Regions from separate parts of the Homo sapiens genome. Here region 1 is linked to region 2. The links come from fine-mapping of genetic effects on plasma protein levels. Region 2 holds a variant in brackets. A gene starts in the other region. All regions are shown on their forward strands.

Region 1 (8,000 bases), not on the chromosome of region 2:
GAGTGAGAACTTACTCGTTACTGAGGGGAGGGCACCAAGTCATTCATGAGGGATCTACCCCCATGACCCAATACCTCCTATGGGCCCCATCTCCACCACTGGGGATCACATTTCTTTTTTAAAAAAACTACTTTTTACTTTTATTTAGAGATGGAATCTCACCATGTTGCCCAGGCTGGACTTGAACTCCTGAGCTCAAGTGATCCTCCTGCCTGGGCCTCCCAAAGTGCTGGGATTACACGTGTGGGCTACTCGGGAGGCTGAGGCAGGAGAATCACTGGAGCCCAGGCAGCAGTGAGCTATGATCCTAACAGGAGGTAGCTCCAAGGGAGCTCCAAGGGATGTGGTAAGAATGTATGAGTGACGCACGTGGAAGAGTGTCTAGGAGAGAGCAGGCAACCTCTACAGAAGTGCAGGTCACTAGGGAGACAGCAGGTACAACACAGCCTTAAAAGCATGGACTCCAGAGTCAGCCACCTGGTTCCCAGCCGCAATCTTAGATGATCTATTTAAACTTTTCCAGCCTATTTCCTCATCTGTACAATAGCGATGATGGAAGTGTCCACCTCACAGTCTTATTGTGGGGATTGCAACACGCATGGCATAGAGCACATGGCAGAGTGCACATTTTTAGGAGCTCAATTAGTATTTACTTCAAGACCGTAAGTGTCGCTAGAACCCCATCACATGTCTGCTATCTGCTTTTCACTTCTACACAGGAATCTTCTTTCTCCCTGTCTTGCTACACAGACCAGTGTGTTCTTTCGTTGTTGTTGTTTGAGATGGAGTCTCGCTCTGTCGCCCAGGCTGGAGTGCAGTGGCGCGATTTCGGCTTACTACTGCCTCTGCCTCCCGGGTTCAAGCGATTCTTCTGCCTCAGGCTCCCCGAGTAGCTGCGACTACCGGCGCGCGCCATCACGCCCGGCTAATATTTTTTGTACTTTTTTAGTAGACACGGGGTTTCACCATGTTGGCCGGGCTGGTCTTGAACTCTTGACCTCAGGGGATCTGCCCGCCTCGGCCTCCCAAAGTGCTGGGATCACAGGCGTGAGGCCCCGCGCCCGGCCTGGTTTCGGGATTTTAAGCTAAATTTCTCTTTGTAAAATCCATTCTAGTTAGTTCATTATGCAAAAGGTACAAGGGTTTATCTTTGCTTTTTTGTACTTGAAATAATTCTTTCATCAATTTCTTTCAAGCAAACAAGTTCGAGACCTCCCTCAACAGGCCACCTTTCTTGTGAAAAGCTGTTTACAAGATTTCGATTCAAATCTGCCTTTACAGGTCTTTTGGGGCTACCCAAGTCTTTCCCTCCGTCGCGTTCTGCGGGAATGAGCTGCGCAGCGCTCCGCCCGGGCCCCCTCAAGCCTCACCTCTTGCAGCGCCTTCCAGTTTTGAGAAAAGTCTTCTGGTGCCTTTGGAGGTCGCACCACAGCACCGGGGCCGCTTGCTGGCTTCTTGCTTACTTCCCGCGCCTTGCTTTTCCAAAACCTTTTTTTCTTCTTGTTTTTCTTCCGAGTGAGCGTCTTGACAGGACCCGGCTTAGCCACGGGGCTGCTCGGGGCGCGCTTGGAGGCGGGGACCTTCGCCTTCCCCATCCTGCTGCCGTCCAGCGCCTGGGCCGGCGGCCACCCGAGACCCCGGCCTCCCCGGGCCCGGCGCCCTGGCAGCACAAGCGCCTGCCCAGGCCAGGCCGAAACACACCCACCGCAGGGACCCCGTCCAGGAAAAGACTCCGGAAGAGACCCCGCACGCGTTGCGCATACCTCAGCACGCACGCTCCAGTCCCCGGAAGCGCTCGTCTCTCCACAACCGGCTGGAAACCGGATCCCTGCCTCTGGTTCCGCGCAGCCTGGGCGGTTCACCCGCACGGGACTTGGGCCGCCGCCTTAGCCAGCGGCATCCGGGGTCATCGACCTCGAGTTTGACTGGGGCAAGCCGAGGACCTCCCCAAGATCCGGGATGGGGATGAGAGATGCGAACGCCGGAAGGGAACTGGGGGGCCGCTGTGTGTGTAGCACCTGGTAGGGCAGCTGAGCTGGGGGCACTGGGCGGTGGGGCTAGTGAGAGCCGGGCTAGGTCGCTCGCCTGCGTCCTGGACTCTCGAGCCTTTCCCGCCTTGGGCTGCTCCTTGCTCAGCCTCACAGCGGCTCATCTTCCACGTACAGTGGGGAAACTGAGGCCCAGGCACCGGGAGGAGTTCCTGCCAGTTCACTCTGTAGCAGGACGAGCCGCAGACAAGAACCCCTCAGACACCGAATTGTAGAAGGAAAGGGCTTTATTTAGTGGGGAGCATCGGCAGACTCACGTCTCCAAAAACCGAGCTCTCTGAGTGAGCAATTCCTGTCCCTTTTAAGGGCTTACAACCCTAAGGGGGTCTGTGTGAGAGGGTCGTGATCGATTGAGCAAGCAGGGGGTACGTGACTGGGGGCTGCATGCACCGGTAATCAGAACGCAACAGAACAGGACAGGGATTTTCACAATGCTTTTCCATACAATGTCTGAAATCTATAGATAACATAACCGGTTAGGTCAAGGATTGATCTTTAACCAGGCCCAGGGCGCGGCGCCGGGCTGTCTGCCTGTGGATTTTATTTCTGCCTTTTAGTTTTTACTTCTTTATTTGGAAGCAGAAATTGGGCATAAGACAATATGAGGGGTGGTCTCCTCCCTTACTTCTGCCGCCTGGGTTCAAGCGATTCTCCTGCCTCAGCCTCCTGAGTAGCTGGGACTATAGGTGCACGCCACCACTCTCTGCCAATTTTTGTATTTTTAGTAGACCTGGGGTTTCGCCACGTTGGCCAGGCTGTCTTGAACTCCTGACCTCCAGTGATCCATCCGCCTCGGCCTCCCAAAGCGCTGGGATTACAGGTGTGAGCCACCGTGCCCGGCCGGGAGTGGGTAGATTTGATGTGCGTGTGTAACAGGCAGAGGTTGATGGAGTAACAGGGAAGTGAGGCTCCTAGGATTTTGGTCTGAGCAATTGGGTGTGGCCATTTATCATCTCAATAAATGTCTGCGGGGAGCAGGGTGAAGTATGGGGGTGGAGCCATGAGCTCCTTTTCACACTTGCTGAGTTTGAACGGGCCGTCAGTCACCAAGGAGAGACGTCTAATCAGCAGCAGGATATAAGATTCCTAAGCTTAGGGAAGGGTCAGTGCTGGAGATGTAATTTGGAAATCGTCAGCACATAATTAGTGTTGAAACATGAACCTGGGTTAGTTCATCCAAAGAGAGAGTACCAATATAGGGAGTGAAGGGTTAAGACCAGATAGCAGGTGCTGGGGGCTCTCCAGGGGCGAAGCAGCAGAGGAGGCTGAGGGGGAGCAGTCAGTGCAGTGGGAGGAGAAGCGGATGTGAGTGGCATCAGAGAATCCAGGGGGAGAATAAACCACATCAGATGCTGCTGAGAGGCTGAGAAGGACGAGGACAGAGAGATGGGAACCAGATATGGCACTGAGATTGTCAGCAAGTCCACCGAAAAGGGTTTTCTTTTTTTTTGTTTGTTTTGAGACGGAGTCTTGCTCTGCTGCCCAGGCTGGAGTGCAGTGGCGTGATATCGGCTCACCACAATCTCCACCTCCCGGGTTCAAGCGATTCTCCTGCCTCAGCCTCCTGGGTAGCTGGAACTACAGGTGCACGCCACCATGCCCAGCTAATTTTTTTTTTTTTTTTGAGACGAAGTTATGCTCTTGTCGCCCAGGCTGGAGTGCAATGGCGCAATCTCGGCTCACCGCAACCTCCACCTCCCGGGTTCAAGTGATTCTTCTGCCTCAGCCTCCCGAGTAGCTGGGATTACAGGCATGTGCCACCACGCCCGGCTAATTTTGTACTTTTAGTAGAGATGGGGTTTCTCCATGTTGGCCAGGCTGGTATGGATCTCCAGACATCAGGTGATCCTCTCGCCTCAGCCTCCCAAAGTGTTGGGATTACAGGCGTGAGCCACCGCACCTAGCCTAATTTTTGTATTTTTGAAAAGAGACGGGGTTTCACTATGCTGGCCAGGCTGATCTCGAACTCCTGACCTCATGATCCGCGTGCCTCGTGATCCACCTGCCTCGGCCTCCCAAAGTGCTGGGATTAAAGGCGTGAGCCACCACACCTGGCCCAGGTTTTCTTTTTAAAAAAGGAAAAAAACTTTGTTCCAGCAGTTTGTAAACCAGGGCAATGCAGCCTTCTGTACAAAGGTGCATTCCAGGGAACAAAGAGAACAAAGAAAGAGGTCGTCTTTTGTAGAGAACTTCCTGCCCAGGTTCCCACTTTGGTCCACTTATGCAAATGAGGAAGGCACACTTGCTTAGTTCTGATTGGTTAATACTTGCTGAGTTCAGATTGGTCGATGCAGGTCACAGTCGATGGGTTGATTCTGGCGGCATAAACAGGAACAGATAGCTGTGAAACCATCCCAGAGTTAAGTGAGAGTGGGGGCTTTCCAGGAACGCAGAATGTGTGTGTGACCCTAGTCAGCAAATGGCTGCTAGGTCCTACTTTGAATTTAGGCCCAGTTAGTAACTTGGGATCCATCAAGAAGGATTGGCTCTTTCAGGGTTCACAAAGTTATTGGTGACCTTTTAAAGATCAATTTCAATGGTATGTGGGAATTGAAGGCAAGGAAGTGGAGATAGCCACTGAAAATAATGTTTCTAAGTTCTTAAAGACAGCCAGAAACAGGGCTATGGCAGGAGGACAGTGTGGGTCAAGGGAAGGTTGTTGATTGTAATCAAGAGACACCAGAGTGTCTGGGCTTGGTGGCTCATGCCTGTAATCCCAGCACTTTGGGAGGCCGAGGCAGTCAGCTCACCTGAGGTCAGGAGTTTGAGACCAGCTTGGCCAACATGGCGAAACCCCACCTCTACTAAAAATACAAAAACTAGCCAGGCGTGATGGCGGGTGCCTGTAATCCCAGCCACAAGGGAGGCTGAGGCAGGAGAATCACTTGAACCTGGGTGGCGGAGGTTGCAGTGAGCCGAGATCGTGCCACTGCACTCCAGCCTGGGTGACACAGCAAGACTCTGTCTCAAAAAACAAACAAAAACCAAAAAGAGACAGGAGAGTCATTCATGCTGATGGAGTGAGCCAGGTACCAGGATCTCGATATCTAAGCATGCCCCCTTCTCCAACAGCCTCCTTACCTTCCTGCATGAAAGCACACCCTTCCCTCCAGTCCCCCATTCCTTTATTCTGCTGTATTTTTCTCCATAACACTTACCACCTTTGAACATACTACATATACAACATGTGTCTGTCTAGCAACTTTGCTGTCTGGCTCTCTTCCCTAGAATTTAAGCTGTGAGAGGCCGAGGCTGCTGTCTGCCTGGCTTGGGGCTGCTTTCCTGGTGTCTAGCACAGAGCCTGGCCTGTTTCAGGGGCTCAGTGAAACATTTGTTGGCTGAAGGAATGAATGAATGGCTCTAGCAGAGGGGCAGAAACTAACGATGCAGGAGGAGAGAGCTGGGAAGGGATCCAGAGCCAGGGCCTGGCAGGAAGTGTAGGTGTGTCCTCCCTGATCGCAGAGGAGGAGAGAGGCTGCACTTTGAGGGGTGGAAAGACAAGGTGAATCCCCCTGCTGGTCATCAGCTTGTGCGGCTCTGTGGGTGTAAAAGAGTGGTTTGGAGCATGTGAAGTGAGTCTTCCAGGAGATGAAGGGGATTGCCAGGCCGTTTGTGATGATGCTGAGATCTGGTGCCGTGCAGCCTGCTTCTGCGACTCTCCTCATCAGGCGCAGGCACAGAGTAGGTGGAGAGTTGAGCCAGAACCACGATGTCTTTGGCACAGCCTCTCATCTGTCAGATGGGAGCGGGGACCCCGGAGAGGGAGTCAGCCGAGGTCCTGGCATTCCTTGTGAACCCCCGTCTGTGGGTTTCTGGTCCAGTGTCCCTTCTCCAGATTAGATGGCTTAGGCCTCCTCTAAGGGGGTGGGCGTGCACATCCGGAGAGCTGTCTGGTGTGCAGGACTGGGCTGCAGGTTACCCTGAACTGCAACCATCTTAGAGCAAGGCCCAGCTTGCAGCAGGAGGAGCTGCAGGCCGCCCACCCTAGCCACGGCCCCTGCCCTGGCAGGAAGCTTCCAAGAGTAAACACTGCCTAATCGTCCCGCCCAGTAGTGAGCAGGCCTGTCCCATTCCATACTGACCAGATTCCCAGTCACCAAGGCCCCCTCTCACTCCGCTCCACTCCTCGGGCTGGCTCTCCTGAGGATGCACCAGCGTCACCCCCGGGCAAGATGCCCTCCCCTCTGTGTGGCCGGAATCCTTGCCTGTGGCTTTCTCCTGGGCTGCTGGGGACCCTCCCATTTCCAGCAGGTGGGCTCATTTGCAGGAGCGGGGGTATTCTGGGAGCCTCTGGGTGGGGTATTCTGAGCTACCTGGGGCGAGGGGAGTGCCAAATAGCTGACTACATCAGCTTTGGGGTTTGCGCTGGGCAGGGGAGTCTGTACTTGGGGCTTTGGGGGATGAAGTGTGCTCACTGAAGAGGGAGTTGGTGTCTCAGTACGACCTGCTCATTCGGTGAAGCTGAACAGACAGATACTAGTTTGTCCCAAACTGTGTAGGTTGCTCTTCTCTGCCTCTCCCTTCCTCTCCCTGTCTCTGATTTCCCCCTCTCCTTCTTGGTTGGCCTCACCCACCTCCTGCCTCCTGTCTCCCTCTTCATCCATCTCTTTTTGTTCTTTTTTCTTTCTCTCTCTCTCTTTTTTTTTTTTTTTTTTTTTTTAAGACATGGGGTCTTGTTATGTTGCCCCAGCTGGTCTCAAACTCCTGGACTCAAGTGATCCTCCCACCTCGGTCTCCCCAAGTGTTAGGATTACAGGCCAGAGCCACTATGCCCGGCCCCATCCATCTCTTTTTGTCTTGCAGAGTTGTCTTCAGGCTTTGGAGCCACAGGCCGTGTCTTCTTACTTGAGCCCTGGTGCTCCCTTAAAAGGTACTTGTCCTGGTGTCTTCTCTCCCGGGGGGAGTTTCTCAGGACTTTCAAGGGGTATCTCACCACTGAGTCAGTGGTCTGGGATTTTTGGTGGATCTGGAAGGAGAAGGTCAGAGAAGCTGCTGTCAACCCTGTTAATTAACTCTGTTACTTCCTGCCAAGTTGATATAAGCTGGTCTGGGTGTTCCAGCCAGGCCAGGGTTCTCACCCTAGCTTCTGTTAAATATCACAAGGGAACGGTCACCGATTGGCTGGCCCCTCCTGCCCCATGGCCTCTGCTGAGCTGGCTGATTTTCAGGAGCTCTTGTGGTTTCTGACCGTGGATGTAAATATTTATTCCTTCTGTGGGAAACAAGATAGGTACTGGCTCAGGCTACCTCCTAAGGCCATGGATTTCCTTATGATAAAGGCCTGTCCCCATTGCCCACAGGCCCATGTCTGTGACCTTCTCCGGTGCGAGCCCCCTTCCCAGTAGGGCCATTGGCAACTTGACTAATGGCTGATGGGGGCCAGAGGCAGGTGGGCTAGTGGTCAGGGGCAACAGGAGGGCAAGGCCCACTTTGTGACCTGGTTCTTTGTGGTCTAGGCCAGAGGCACACTGACCAGTGCCTGGGGCCACGCTGGGGGCTGGATGCAGCCGACGCTGTCTGGGTATCCCATAGCCTGGGTCCTTCCAGCGCTGCCGCTCCTGAAAGGCTGGGAGATCATTGCCCAGGGTCCCTGACCCTCTAAGGGCTCCCTTGGGAGAGGACAGTGAGGGCTGGCCTGGGCCCCTGCTTCCCAAGAGACCACTGGGCTCCACTCGTGTTCAGTTTCCTGTCGGGGTCCATGATGTTACTTGTGAAACACCTGTGCCCAGAGCAGGGTCCAGGAGGCAGGGCAGGGGCTTTCCCCTTTGGGCAGAGCCACCAGGGCAGTGGGAATCTTGTCTTGATGGGGTGACCCAAAGCACACAATAGCCCAACAGCTCCTCCTGGGCCCTGCCCTTTGCGTGCCTAGTCACTAATGGGGTCTGGCTCTTGGGGTGGGGGTGACACGCAATGTCTTGACTTCGGAAGGCCATCCTTCCAAGACCTGCCAGC
Region 2 (15,496 bases):
GAAGGGACTCTTGGGACCACCTGGGCAGCCTCCATGTTTTCTAGGATTTTTTTTTTTTTTTTTTTTTTTTTGGAGACAGTGTCTCATTCTGTTGCTCAGGCTGGAGTGCAGTGGCATGATCTTGGCTCACTGTAACCTCCACCTCCCAGGTTCAAGCGATTCTCCTGCCTCAGCCTCCCGAGTAGCTGGGACTACAGGTACGTGCCACCATGCTGGGCTAATTTCTGTATTTTTAGTAGAGGCGGGGTTTCACCATGTTGGCCAGGCTGGTCTCGAACTCCTGACCTCAAGTGATCCACCTGCCTCGGCCTCCCAAAGTGCTGGGATTACAGGCATAAACCACTGTGCCTGGCCTCTAGGACTTTTGTAAATTGTCTACCTGAGTATTAACCCATGGCTCAGGAGGCCCCCAGCACTAAGACGCTCTATCACCAGTATTTGAGGAGTCTTCAGGCAGCGGGGCAGGGAGTAAGAGACAGAACAAATGCTCCAGGATGAGGAGACCCAGGGGATTTGTGCGGCTCCGGCATCGCCAGCATAGTTGTTAGGAAACCTGGGCTAATTAGGGTGCTCTGTTGTTCTTCTCAGCAGGCCCTTGAAATTGGGCAGACTTCTGGCTCACCTCTTAGAGAGAAAGGAACACTGTGTACCACTTTCTCCCTGTGTTTGCCACAGGGAAATGGCTATGGTTGCTGAGAAGTTGGGACAGAACCTGCAGGCGTGTGCTTACCACGTTTCTTGGGAGAGCAGGGATGGTCTGTGTGGCAGCCACATTCTCACTCCTTTGTGCTTCCCCTTTTGCCTCCATTCCTAGGCCTGTGAATGTTCTAGATTCTCTGGACACACTCAGCCTTCTGGAGTATGTCCAGGCAGCATGACTGTGGCATGCAAAAAACAAGGGCTTGGAAGCCATTCTCTGGCCGTGTGATGTTCATGAGAGTTAACCTGATGACTCTGTGCCTCAGTGTCACTGCTCTAATGGGAATCTAGAATATTCTTCACTGAGAGGTTTTGAGGCTTTATGGTCCCCCATAAATTACTTCTTTCTCTGTTCTTTCCCCTAAGCCCTATCTCAAAGTCTATTCCAGTCCTTATTGTCACTTGTGTGAAATTCTCCTTTCTCTGCTCTTTCTTCTAAATTGCATCTAGCGGTTGGGGTGGGGGGGCGGTCTGCCTACAAAATGAAAGCCACTCATAATGGAAATAATTTTAGACTCACACAGGAGTTACTGTGACTCAACAGCTGAACAAAAACGCTTGGTTTCTCATGCTGGGAGATAGTCCTCCATCCCCACAGGTCCTGGCAGAGGAGCAACTTTGTGACTTTCACCTGAGGACCTGTGGGGTGTGCTCTCAGGGATTGTGAGGGTGGGTTCTGGAGGGATCTTCTCAACACAGACAGCCTTTTTCCTCTCTTTGCAGCAGAGGGACTCCTTTGAACCCATGAGTGTGGCCTTTATAACTCAATGCTCAGAATGTTTGAAAGAATAGGTCTTTAGAAAGTCGAAATTACCCTCTGTTCGGGAAATTACAAACACCTACAGGTACATACACCTCCCATGTTCCCCTAGTGTGAGTACGGCAGACATCACTAATGGATCCCAGCACCTTTCTCTGTGCTGAACCTGAATGGAACCTTAGAATCTTTTCCCCATAGTGCCTGAGCCTGAGAAAATATATACTTTTATAGTTATAGAAATTGAGACCCAGAGACTTAAGTATCTAGTGTAAGGCAGTCTTCTTGTAAGGTGAATGAATATAAATATATATACACACACATGTATATGTAAATTTTATGTTGGCAAGTTTTGCAAATTGTTCCTGATGGAACACCTCCCGCCCAATACATTTAAATCTGAGGTTCTTTATCAGGACCAATTTGCAAAACTTGTTGCTGTCTCTAAAGAATGGAGTACACTATCACACTGACAAAGTAGTGTATCCCTTACGCTTGCCAGTTTGAGCTGCAGGAATATTTGGGAAAATGAGCTGCATGTGTCAGATGGGCCACATCACCTGGAGCAGGCAGAATGCACCTGAGATGGAGGATGACTGACAAGTTGGAACATTTTTTGCTAGGCAAGGAGGTGCAGTTACAAAATATCTGCCTGCTTCAATCAGATCTGGCAGAAAATGCAATCCTTTCCTAGAGGGTAGAGAAACATTTGTTTGAAATGATTAGTTTCTTTTTGGGTAGAAAGGTGTTCCCTGGGTGGATGTTTTATGAGGCTTATGTCTGTCCCTCTCTCCCTGCCTCTTCCTTTATTTCCTTTTGTCCTTTAAGATCCAGCTCCCTTCTCCAGGAATCTTCCCCTCTGCTGCCTGCCCAAAGTACCTCTAGTTCCATTCCTGTTGAAACACTTAATTCTGTCCCCAGTGAGAGCCTCACAGCTCCACCTAGCATGAGCTCTCCTGTGAATTTTTTCCTGTGTACCTGACAATGTTGAGCAAGGATCCAGGGTCACACAGCCCATGAGCTGTGTGCAAAGTTTAGAGGTTGCCATGGTCTGAATGTTTGTGTACCCCCCACAAATTCAAGTGTTGAAACCTAATCCCTAATGCAATAGTATTGGGAGGTGATTAGGTCTTGAGGGCTCTGCCTTCATGAATGGAATTAGTGCCCTTATAAAAGAGGCCTGAGGGAGCCTCTTCACCCCTCTGCCATGTGAAGACACAGAAGGCATCACTGTTTGGTGCCTTGCCAGACACCGAATCTGCTATTGCTTTGATCTTGGACTTCCCAGCCTCCAGAACTGTGAGCAATACATTGATAAATTCCTTAGTCTAGGATATTTTGTTATAGCAGCAGGAGTAGACTAAGACAGAGATACCAAGTTTGTCTGTGGATTTGTGGCTTCCCAGGGCAGGTGAGCCTGGAGGAAGGACTCGTATGTGTGTTGTTTTTCTATGCCAGGAGTCAGAGGTTGGGCTGGGTCCCATGATCAGGGCTGCTGTTTAGGGCCGGGGTCTTCCTGTCTTCTGGCCTTGTGAATGGCCTGGTGCTTTGCCTGGCGAGAGGAGTCAGACTTTCCTCTCTTGCTGCAGTGTGTTGTTGCTGCTCTGCTGTCTAGCAGCTACCGTTGCCATGGAGCAGCAAGAGGTACTGTGCCAGTGGCCCCCCTCCCACTGTCCTTGCAACAGCTCCTCTGTCTGCCTCCTTAGCCCTCAGCCCTGCCATGGGATGGGAACAGAGGAGACTGCAGCAGCAAGTGTGGCTGATTTTAATTGATTTCTGCTTGGTACACATTTACTGATGAGCTGTAGGTCAGCAACTTCCAACAGAGCTGAGATGGGAAGAGAATGGCTGGCTGCCTAGTTGCTTCCTGGGACTTTGAATGGCATCTTGGCATTTTACAAATGTGATCATGGGAGCTGCTGATGGGACCTCCCCTAGAGATACAATGACAGCGGCACCTGTCATCTCTACTATTATCTATAATGTGGCTTGTATTTATCAACTCACTTAAACCTGCAGGCAGTATTATCTCCATTTTACAGATAAGGAAACTAAAGCTCAGAGAGGTTAAGTAACTTGACCAAATTAACACAGTGAAAAAGGGGCAGAGCTGGGATCCAATCCCAGGCAATATGGCTTTATAGTTCATGTTCTTAACCACTATTTTATACTGCCTCTGTATTTCTAAACTAAAAGTTGAAACCTACCATTGGAGATCTTTAAAAATAAAAGTAGGTCATTAGCTCTTTAAGACAGTCTATGTATGTAGCGACATTTATTAAATACTGACTGAATAAAGTACCTAAGAGTATGCCAGGTACTCTTCTAGTTGCTCTCATGTATTAGCTCATTAATCCCCACAACACTCCTGAGAGGTAAGTATTATTATTTTCATCCCCATTTTGCAGAGGAGAAAACTGAGGCATGGAGAGGGTTAGTATCCACGGTCACAGAGCCAGGATGTGACAGGACTGGAACCCAATTGTCTGGCTCTAGATTCTAAATAAAAGTGAAACTACTAGCTTATGAAACAAAATTTGACAAACCTCTCAACTTGGTTATTCTGACGGAAGAAATTCTAGGAATAGAGAACCCTCCTGGAGTTACCGTCTTAGTTACTAGAGCTCAGTTTGTGAGACTCCATAGCTTTTCAGAATATTTTATATTCTGAATAAAAAAATGCACACAACAAAAACAACCAGATACATTTGTTCAAAGGAACGATCCTCAGGATTTGTGGACAGTTCACTTCGAGACCAGTGTCTCTTACAATCTCAGTTTTCTGTCCTGAGCAGTTACCTTCAAAACTTAGGGGAAGAGCTCAGAGGATGTCTGAGTCCATTTTGCATCTTCATCACACAGAGCTCTGTGGCTGAGTGCATCATAGCTCTTAGGTACAGCAGACCTATTGGATTGATCAGCAGCAGAACTGTTATGCCTGGGGTAAGAACATAATGAAGTGGGGGAGATTCCAAGCTAGGAATTTGGGGCCCAGATTCTAGGGGATGCCTCCAGGGTTTTCAGGCTGCACCTTCTCCATTGATCTGCCCAGTTTATGGAGCCACAGGGGAATAAGTCCTGCTATTGAAGGTGATGTTGGTGCAGGTGGTATTGGGGTGGCACCATTGACCATGCTGCACTGGGAGTCCCCAACCCTGGGCTTTCCCTTTTGAGGTTCAGTGTAGGCTCTTGATTCTGCTTCATAATCTTACTTTACAGTTGGAGGAAGAGGACGGGTTGCGAAAGGAACTTCCTTTGCATGCGGTCAGAGTGCTGGGCCATCTGAACAGCCCCCTCCACGGTCTGCAACATTTCTACATTCTGATAGAAACAGTTAGTGGTCTTGACGTGTCTGACAACCTACAAAACCAACATATCCTGGGGTTTGATCTCTCTGGTGGTGTCAGAGGAGTCCAAAGTGAGCATCTGTAAGCTCGGCTGTGATCCAGCCTATTTGGGAGGATCTGTATTAAACCAGTGACTGCCCTCCCCACCCCACCTCTACTCCTAAAGGGTTCTGTTTCACAAGAGCCAGGCTCAGGTACCTGTTTTTCTCCACCCACACCTTGTTTATTCCTCTTTTCCTCACTGTCTTCGTTGTTGTTCTTGTTGTATATGAGAAAATCGACTCATTTTTAACATTTCGCAAGCCTCCCCCTCCCACTAGTAGGTGTGTGAGCAGCTGCAGATTTTACCGTCTGTAAACCTTCCACACTCCAGCAGATCCTCTTTCCACCTTTCAGCACTGTGCAGCCCACCCAAGCCACGTGCCTTCTTGGTGTCCCATCTATGCCTCTCTCTGAAATCAGGAACCAAGCTCACTGGGGATGAGCATGGCAGGACCTCAGGAAGAAGCCTACTCCTTTCCTTCCTGCAAGAAAATGTGCCAGGCATTTAGTATTAGGGATACAGAAGTGGATACACAAGATTCTTGCCTTCAAGCAACTCGGGAATTTAGAAGGAATAGCAACAGTATTAACAATTGCTACCATTTATTCAGTTTCAGTATATGTAAGCCACTGCACTTTTTTTTTTTTTTTGAGACTGAGTCTCGCTCTGTCACCCAGGCTAGAGTGCAGTGGCGTGATCTCTGCTCACTGCAGTCTCTCCCTCCCAAGTGCAAGTGAATCTCCTGCCTCAGCCTCCTGAGTAGCTGGGATTACAGGCGCCTGTCACCACACCCGGCTATTTTTTGTATTTTTAGTAGAGACGGAGTTTCGCCATGTTGACCAGGCTGGTCTCGAACTCCTGACTGCTGGTGATCCACCCACCTTGGCCTCCCAAAGTGCTGGAATTACAGGCGTGAGCCACCTCACCCAGCGCACTGTGCTTTTCCTGAATGATATCATCTAATAATTCTCAAAACCAGCCTGGAACGTAGGAATTCTTGTTTTCATCTTGGAGATGAGAAAATGGCAGAGAGGATAAGTTAATCAGCTGAGGTCACATAGCTAGCAGGTGGTGGACTCAGTAGTTTGTCTTTGGAGGACAGACAATTTTTTTTTTTTTTTTGAGATGGAGTTTTGCTCTTATTGCCCAGGCTGGAGTGCAATGGCCCGATCTCAGCTTACTGCAACCTCTGCCTCCTGGGTTCAAGCGATTCTCCCACTTCAGCCTCCCAAGTAGCCGGGATTACTGGCATGTGCCACCATGCCTGGCTAATTTTGTATTTTTAGTAGAGATGGGGTTTCCCCCTGTTGGTCAGGCTGGTCTTGATCTCCTGACCTCAGGTGATCCGCCCGCTTCGGCCTCCCAAAGTGCTGGGATTACAGGTCTGAGTCCTGCACCCGGCGACAGACAATATTATTAAGAACAATGTTGACTGAACGCCTCCAGCGTCCCACTTGTCAGTGCTTGTAGACACAGGCTTTCAGTCTCCTGAAGTGCTGTGGACACTTTGATCAGAGAGGGTCATGGCTTGTGAGGATCACCACACAAGAGGAAGTGGCAGCTCAGGTCTGATGATGAAGTTTGTCTGACTCCAGACCTTTCTGGCTCCTAACCCCTGGACCGTATCACCTCTCATCAAAACAGTGCAAGATGTATTATCAAATCCAGCCACTGGTTAGACTAGAAAAAGGAGCTATTAGGAGTGGTGACAGAGGGCATCCCTGTCTTGTGCCGGTTTTCAAAGGGACTGCTTCCAGTTTTTGATCATTCAGTATGATATTGGCTGTGGGTTTGTCATAGATAGCTCTTATTATTTTGAGATACGTCCCATCAATACCTAGTTTATTGAGAGTTTTTAGCATGAAGGGTTGTTGAATTTTGTCAAAGGCCTTTTCTGCATCTATTCAGATAATCATGTGGTTTTTGTCGTTGGTTCTGTTTATATGCTGGATTATGTTTATTGATTTGCATATGTTGAACCAGCCTTGCATCCCAGGGATGAAGCCCACTTGATCATGGTGGATAAGCTTTTTGATGTGCTGCTGGATTCGGTTTGCCAGTATTTTATTGAGGATTTTTGCATCGATGTTCATCAGGGATATTGGTCTAAAATTCTCTTTTTTTGTTGTGTCTCTGCCAGGCTTTGGTATCAGGATGATGCTGGCCTCATAAAATGAGTTAGGGAGGATTCCCTCTTTTTCTATTGATTGGAATAGTTTCAGAAGGAATGGTACCAGCTCCTCCTTGTACCTCTGGTAGAATTCGGCTGTGAATCCGTCTGGTCCTGGACTTTTTTTGGTTGGTAAGCTATTAAGTATTGCCTCAATTTCAGAGCCTGTTATTGGTCTATTCAGAGATTCAACTTCTTCCTGGTTTAGTCTTGGGAAGGTGTATGTGTCAAGGAATTTATCCATTTCTTCTAGAATTTCTAGTTTACTTGCATAGAGGTGTTTATAGTATTCTCTGATGATAGTGTGTATTTCTGTGGGATCGGTGGTGATATCCCCTTTATCATTTTTTATTGCATCTATTTGATTCTTCTCTCTTTTCTTCTTTATTAGTCTTGGTAGCAGTCTATCAATTTTGTTGATCTTTTTAAAAAAACTAGCTCCTGGATTCATTGATCTTTTGAAGGTTTTTTTGTGTCTCTGTCTCCTTCAGTTCTGCTCTGATCTTAGGTATTTCTTGCCTTCTGCTAGCTTTTGAATGTGTTTGCTCTTGCTTCTCTACTTTTTAATTGTGATGTTAGGGTGTCAGTTTTAGATCTTTATTGCTATTCAACATAGTGTTGGAAGTTCTGGCCAGGGCAATCAGGCAGGAGAAGGAAATAAAGGGTATTCAATTAGGAAAAGAGGAAGTCAAATTGTCCCTGTTTGCAGATGACATGATTGTATATCTAGAAAACCCCATCGTCTCAGCCCAAAATCTCCTTAAGCTGATAGGCAACTTCAGCAAAGTCTCAGGATACAAAATCAATGTGCAAAAATCACAAGCATTCTTATACACCAATAACAGACAGAGAGCCAAATCATGAGTGAACTCCCATTCACAATTGCTTCAAAGAGAATAAAATACCTAGGAATCCAACTTACAAGGATGTGAAGGACCTCTTCAAGGAGAACTACAAACCGCTGCTCAATGAAATAAAAGAGGATACAAACAAATGGAAGAACATTCCATGCTCATGGATAGGAAGAATCAATATCGTGAAAATGGCCATACTGCCCAAGGTAAGTTATAGATTCAGTGCCATCCCCATCAAGCTACCAATGACTTTCTTCACAGAATTGGAAAAAACTACTTTAAAGTTCATATGGAACCAAAAAAGAGCCCGCATTGCCAAGTCAATCCTAAGCCAAAAGAACAAAGCTGGAGGCATCACGCTACCTGACTTCAAACTATACTACAAGGCTACAGTAACCAAAACAGCATGGTGCTGGTACCAAAACAGAGATATAGACCAATGGAACAGAACAGAGCCCTCAGAAATAATGCCATACATCTACAACTATCTGATCTTTGACAAACCTGACAAAAGCAAGAAATGAGGAAATGATTCCCTATTTAATAAATGGTGCTGGGAAAACTGGCTAGCCACATGTAGAAAGCTAAAACTGGATCCCTTCCTTACACCTTATACAAAAATTAATTCAAGATGGATTAAAGACTTAAATGTTAGACCTAAAACCATAAAAACCCTAGAAGAAAACCTAGGCAATACCATTTAGGACATAGGCACAGGCAAAGACTTCATGTCTAAAACACCAAAAGCAATGGGAACAGAAGCCAAAATTGACAAATGGAATCTAATGAAACTAAAGACCTTCTGCACAGCAAAAGAAACTACTATCAGAGTGAACAGGCAACCTACAGAATGGGAGAAAATTTTTGCAATCTACTCATCTGACAGAGGGCTAATATCCAGAATCTACAATGAACTCAAACGAATTTACAAGAAAAAAACAAACAACCCCGTCAACAAGTGGGCGAAGGATATGAACAGACACTTCTCAAAAGAAGACATTTATGCAGCCAAAAGACACATGAAAAAATGCTCATCATCACTGGCCATCAGAGAAATGCAAATCAAAACCACAGTGAGATACCATCTCACACCAGTTAGAATGGCAATCATTAAAAAGTCCGGAAACAACAGGTGCTGGAGAGGATGTGGAGAAATAGGAACACTTTTACACTGTTGGTGGGAGTGTAAACTAGTTCAACCATTGTGGAAGTCAGTGTGGCGATTCCTCAGGGATCTAGAACTAGAAATACCATTTGACCCAGCCATCCCATTACTGGGTATATACCCAAAGGATTATAAATCATGCTGCTATAAAGACACATGCACACATGTTAATTGTGGCACTATTCGCAATAGGAAAGACTTGGAGCCAACCCAAATGTCCAACAATGATAGACTGGATTAAGAAAATGTGGCACATATACACCATGGAATACTATGCAGCCATAAAAAATGATGAGTTCATGTCCTTTGTAGGGACATGGATGAAGCTGGAAACCATCATTCTCAGCAAACTATCGCAAGGACAAAAAACCAAACACCGCATGTTCTCACTCATAGGTGGGAATTGAACAATGAGAACACTTGAACACAGGAAGGGGAACATCACACACTGGGGTCTGTTGTGGGGTGGGGGTTGGGGGAGGGATAGCATTAGGAGATATACCTAATGTAAATGACGAGTTAATGGGTGCAGCACACCAACATGGCACATGTATGCCTATGTAACAAACCTGTACATTGTGCACATGTACCCTAAAACTTAAAGTATAATTAAAAAAAAAGAAAAAAAGAAAGAAAAAGGAACTATTAAAAATGACTGTAGAGGCCGGGCGTGGTGACTCATGCCTGTAATCCCAGGTCTTTGGGAGGCCAAGGCAGGTGAATCATTTGAGTTCACTAGTTCAAGACCAGCCTGGCCAACATGATGAAACCCCATCTTTACTGAAAATACAAAGAAATGAGCCGGCGTGGTGGCATGCACCTGCAATTCCAGCTACTCAGGAGGCTGAGGCACAAGAATTACTTGAACCCAGGAGGCAGAGGTTGCAGTGAGCCGAGACTGTGCCACTGCACCCCAGCCTGAGTTACAGAGTGAGATCCTGTCTCAAAAAAAAAAAAAGAGTGTAGGACCACAGGCCCACAGGCATAAACTGGGATGATCCCAGGGTGACGGGGCTTTGTGTTTGCCCTAAACAGGATACACAATCCAGTAAACAAGTATTTTCTGAGTGTCTGCTGTGTGCCAGACAGTGTTCTTGCTATGAACAGAAAAGGCCCCAGGAGCTTGCCATTAAGGGATGCAGGAGGAACTGGGGACAGGGATGAGGCCATGTCAGGTGGGGACAGTGCTCTGAGGAAGACATGAAAGGTAGTGGCATTGCAGGGATGAGGGTGCCAGGAAGGCCTCTGCGAGTCCTCTGTGATAATCCGGGTGAAGGGGGTCTTAACTTAGACAACTGATAGGCAAAGAAAGGCCTGGGAGCAGGAACATCTGTCCGTTTGAAGGAAGTTTCCTGGGTGTGTTCTGAGTGAGCTGCTGAGTGGCCAGCAGGTGCTGTTCTGTGGGGTTGGGTGGAGTGCAGGTTGCAGCCTGGCCTGCATGAGCCAGCTGTCAGGGTAAAGGATGCCGAGCCACAGAGTGGTCCTCTTCTGAAGGAGGCTGTTCTGCAGGCAACAGGTTTGGAGGCCACTGCTTCGTCAGAAGGGCCCGTCCTGCCCTTTCCTACTTCGGCAGTGCTCAGAAATTGCTTATCGGGGTATTCCTTGGTCTCTGCCTGGGGAGTAGAGGAACTCAACATTGTAAATAAAAGGGTTAGCTTCTTCAAAATTCATTCTTGTCTTCTATTGTTAGAAACCAAAGCTCATGCACGAATGCCACCCACCCTGTGATTACAAACCATGGCCCTCGGGTGGGTGGGTGGCATGTGTGCATGAGCTTTGGTCTCTAAAATAGAAGTGTGAGAACTGTTCTCTCTTATGCCTGTTCCCTCCCAAGTACAGTATATCCATGTCAACTTACTCACAGGCGTGATGGTGGTTCACGTTAAGTATTCACTGTGCTTCTCAGTGGCAGGAGAGCTTTTCTTGCCTTAGCCTACTGTGTCCTCCCAGGAACTCTATGAACTAAGTACTGTGTTTATTCCTGCTTTCAAGATGTGGAAGCTGAGACCCAGAGAGGTGAAACCTAAGGAGCCCAAGGTCACACGCTTGGAAGAACAGGGGCTGGAATCCCTGACACAGTGGGCCTAGCGGAAGCCAGGGCAGGTATTAGCAGGCCCATTTTGCAGAGGGGAAGACTGAGGTGCAGTGATGCAAAATGTGTGGTGGAGGGCTGGGCCTGGAATCTGGGAGTTCTGGTTCCGGGTGACCGTCCACTAGAAAGGGAAAGGTGGCAGAACCATATATATGAGCCTGTTACTTGTTCAAGGACTTGGTCAGGGGCCTCACAGAACTTGGAAAAGAGCAACGGACTCTTCAGAGAAGTTCTTCAGAGAAGAGCTCTGAACTGGAGAGCAAGAGCTGGGAGCACCTCCCATGGCTGCAGTCTCTGGTCATTTCCAAAGCCCAGGAGAAGGCTGCATTTGGTCAACCACCCACTTCCATTTAGCCAGGGCCTTTAAATCATTCCCAAATCCTTAAAAATCACCTGGAATGTGTTTAAAAGGGCAGATTTCTGGGCCTCGAGATAGGCCTATTGAATCCGGATCTGGATTTTGGGGGCCTAGGAATCTGCATTGACACCACTCCAGGCTGCGCTGAGGGACATTCACGTTCCTCCAACATTCATGTTGCCATTAAGGGATGGAGGAGGAACTGGGGACAGGGATGAGGCCATGTCGGGTGGGGACAGTGCTCTGAGGAAGACATTCAGGGTGGTGGCATTGCAGGGGTGAGGGTGCCAGGAACATTCATATTGGAGAATCCCTGGACCTCGG[TACTAAG/T]ACTCCAGAGGGGTGGAAATGACTGTGGGTTCAGTCTAAGGCTCCAGGTGGGGTGCTTCAACAAAAGACCATGGTCACTCAGGGCCAGGGCAAAGGTTATTATCAGCAGCCCCAGACACTTTGGGGACGTGCTGGAAATATCTGCCTGACAGAGTGTTTCTGTTTTGCACCGGTATGATTCGTGTATCTGAGGGCTGCAGCCCTTCATTTTTTTTTTTTTTTTTTTTTTTTTTTTGGTATTTAAGAAAATGGTAAAATACACATAACATAAAATTTACCATTTTAACCATTTTTAGTGTACAGTTCAGTGGCATGAAGTACATTCACGTTGTGTTCATGCAGCCCAAACTTGAGAGCTCTTTTTGGAACACTCCAGGAAAGAAGGGCTGTGTACACACTAGGTGCTTAATAAGTGCTTTCAGATGACAGTGGGGTGGTGGGATTATCGGGGTGGTAGGCTACATTATCATGGATTAAGTAAGCATTCCCACTCTGTACTTTCTTAGGCAACTTAACTTCAGTCTGTAATGCTGAGGCAGACACTAGTGAGCTACGTTTAACACTTCATTTCTATTTCTGGGTGAAGCAGGATGATGAGTTCATTGTCTGGTCAATGCCAAGGGCAACTTCCCCTGCTTTCCTAGGCTCCCATGGCAGAATAGAGGATATCTGTGAAAAATCCAAATTTTCCTCCTATGTGTGTGTCGGGTAAGGGCAGCCCACAGTTATGACTGGGGCTCCAGTTTCAAATGCCGCTGACTCAAGACCGATCTGGTTGAGAACCAAACAAATGGGCCTTTTTATACTGAAGAGGAGATTTTTCTTACCACGTGTCAACAAAAGATCTGTAGACAATCTTGTTATACATTTCACACTGCTGACTTCATAAGTACAACAGCACTCACGACCCCTTTACATTTTTTGGTGTATTTGGGTTTATTTCTGTGGTTACCATGCACTGAGGGAAGTCCACAAAAGCCAGCCTGTTCAGGGCTGGAGCACGGTGCCAGTGGAATTTTGGTGAACTTCACAGCGGTAGAAGGGAGTGGACTGGGAGGTGCAGAAGTAGTGAATTTTGCAGCCGGAAGGAATCTTATATAGACTAAATCCCCCCTTATTTATAGATGAGGATATCAAGACCCAGCAACAGGGGGTGGTTCTGACCTGAGGTCACATCGCTGGTTAGGATCTCAGCCCATCACTGACTTCCTGGTCTCCAGACCCATTGACTTGCCACTGCTCGGATCTTCCCAGTCGTTGAACCCCGAGTTCCGTTGAACTAGATGCCTTGTAATATAATACACCTAACGATAAGTTTTCCTGAATTGAATATTCTTCCGAAAATCATTTATAGATTTGGTGACTTCTCCATTTTTCTTTTCCTGCATTTGGGTAGAATCAATCTTTGGCTCTGAGCAGATCTTTCTGTTTGAGTGTCTTTCCTAAGATCTTTATCTTTCTGGTTGCATTTTCAGAACCCCCTGCCTCTATTGTGATGAGAGCGCTGGGTCCGTTGGCTGTCTCTCTGGGATGACAGCACGAGTTGAAAAGTGGAGAATTGAGTCATCGGCTTTCTGGCGTGGTTTATTCTGTCCCAGAATCCCTAAGTCCTGTCTGATACTATTTAGTCACTGTCCTTGCAGTGTGAAAAGTGATTCACATGTAAGCCATGGAAAGCGCTCAGCAAGCTCTCTGAGACAGGAATTCTTGAGGAGGCAAAAGCCAACAGTGTTAATTGGAGATAGAGAGATAGGAATTCTTGAGGAGGCTGTGAAAAGCCAACAGTGTTAATTGGAGATAGACTGCCATGTGAGAGCCAAACCCCTCATGTTCTCAGGTAAAAGCTAGGAAAATGTTAGGCTCTTGTGACATGCAGTTGTCTCAGCTTCAAAGCTGGATTAATTAACTCACGTAATGCAAAATGTTTGTTGAGGGCCTATTTTGGGCCTGGTCCTACTCAAAGTAGCAACAAAAAGCAACTTGATGCTGTCTTTGACCAGAAGAAGCCATGAGAAGGTGCCCAGGTACTTATCAAAGGGCTTGGTTACATGCCCCTGTTTCCTTGTTACCCTTAAGCAATGAGAGAGAGATGCTTGAAGAAGAGCAGAAGCTCTGCTTGCTCTTTAAGCTTGGCGAGGGTTGGGTCTGTTTCCCCTCCTCCATTCCTGGGCTCCTAGTACCATGTGGTTGCTCAGTGAATATCTGCTCTTTCTTTTTAGCCTTCATGTGGGAGGCAGTTGTTGTGTAGAGGGAATAAGACTAGACTTGGGTCCAATTTACCTGGGTTGAAGTCTTTGCCCCACCACTTTGCTCTTGTCCCTGGACAAGTCACTTGATGTTGCCCAGCCTCCATTTTTGTTGCATCAATAGAGTGGAGATGCCAGCGATTGATCTTGTGACCTTGGGGGCATCACTTAACCTCCCTGACCTTGGATTTCTCATCTTTAAAATGAGGGACACTGAAGATGAGTGTGGAGCACATGTCGGAACAGACAATGAAACAGGCATTCGTTATTATCATTCCCATGTCAGAAATGGGCTACTATCTTACTGTTTTATCTCAAATGTAATTTCAAGAGAATGATACATGGTAACGTGGGTAACTTTCATTTGTCAATGTGTGGATGCGCCGCCCCTCTCCCCGGGGTGTATTCCTCAGCAGCCCGGCAGGGGAGGGCACATCCACACATTGCCTGCTTTAAATCTGTTGCCCGCTCTAATTGTGTAGACCCACTACACCCAACCAGCTTGTATCCCACAGATGGAAGGTAATTTGAATAACTGTTTAAGCCAAAATGTAATTGGAGATAAAAGCTAAATGTCTAAGGTCTAGCAGTATCAAGATGACCAGAAGTGATGCATTGGATCCTCTGCTGCTTCTGAATCATCTGGGTTAATTACCGTACTCTCCACCAGCTTTGGTCATCAAGGAGCACACAGAATCATTGCTTATAATTGAAGACTGTGGACAATGATCACATAAGATCATCCCTAAGTTACCAGTCCCTTTTATTCTAATGGACATTTGAAGAAAAAGGCCTGAACTTTCAATAAAAGCGTCGTCTTTTTGCTTTCAAGGCCCTTCAGCTAGTTCATTAGGGGATTGAAGCCAGACATCATTTGTGACTTTCCCCCTACATTTGGGGAATGGGGGATAGAATATCTTTTGTGGTTTTTGTTTACAAGAAGGAAGATTTCAGGCTTGAGCTGGAGTACGAAAGGAAATTGAAACTAAAGATTGGGTTCTGGATTTGACTAAAGTTTCTAATATTGTTCAGCCACAATAAAGCCAAAAGCGTTCACTGTATGCTCTGGCTGATATAGTAAAGCATGGGCATTTAAGAAAAGGGTTAATTAGGTCAATTAGATTAGATGTTAGGCTGCCTGTTTCTAAATACCATGGGATGTAATTTATTTCAGTGGAGCTTTAAGCCCTCATGCATGGTAGACATGTCGATTATGGATAAATTAAAGGCAAAATAAATGAATATTCAGTATGTCAGACACAATCAGAGAATGGTAGAAAAATATGTAACTTAACTTTCAACCTCTATAACAGCTAGGATTGTGCCCCATGCAAAGCTTCCTGGAAGTTTGGGAGCCCAATTTTTTCTCTCTACTTGTTGTAATTTACTTCTAGGATATAGCTGGGCCAGGAGGATTTTGTCAAGAAATGGGTGC

Which allele goes with the higher level. Alleles are on the strand shown, and positions count from the first base shown. The strength of an association depends on the size of the effect and on how common the allele is.
For the plasma level of the protein whose gene starts at base 6,118 in region 1, allele TACTAAG in region 2 goes with a higher level than allele T (weak association).

What was found. A credible set is the group of variants that fine-mapping cannot tell apart. PIP is the chance, under the fine-mapping model, that this variant and not a neighbour inherited with it causes the effect. The UK Biobank Pharma Proteomics Project read protein levels with antibody pairs (Olink). The fine-mapping took linkage between variants from a reference panel, not from the people measured, so its PIPs are less certain.
Region 1: ADAMTS13 starts here. The variant in region 2 is the best candidate, but not a certain one, in a credible set for the plasma level of the ADAMTS13 protein (UK Biobank, PIP 0.59).

The regions. Positions count from the first base shown.
Region 1 is chr9:133,416,250-133,424,249 of GRCh38, forward strand. It overlaps ADAMTS13 (ADAM metallopeptidase with thrombospondin type 1 motif 13), which reads left to right and starts at 6,118. Exons shown (of 29, transcript NM_139027.6): 1 at 6,118-6,299; 2 at 6,852-6,918. The coding sequence starts at 6,195. REXO4 (REX4 homolog, 3'-5' exonuclease) reads right to left here and starts at 1,761. Exons shown (of 8, transcript NM_020385.4): 1 at 1,371-1,761. The coding sequence starts at 1,595. RefSeq lists a silencer at 1,506-1,745 and enhancers at 1,856-2,075, 5,273-5,412, 5,643-5,692, 5,813-5,872.
Region 2 is chr12:104,565,213-104,580,708 of GRCh38, forward strand. The region is part of intron 1 of CHST11 (carbohydrate sulfotransferase 11); the gene reads left to right. Among named protein-coding and RNA genes, the nearest start is that of MIR3922, 19 kb to the right of the region's middle. RefSeq lists enhancers at 955-1,014, 4,758-4,847, 14,903-15,012. The variant TACTAAG/T (reference allele first, on the strand shown) is at 11,810.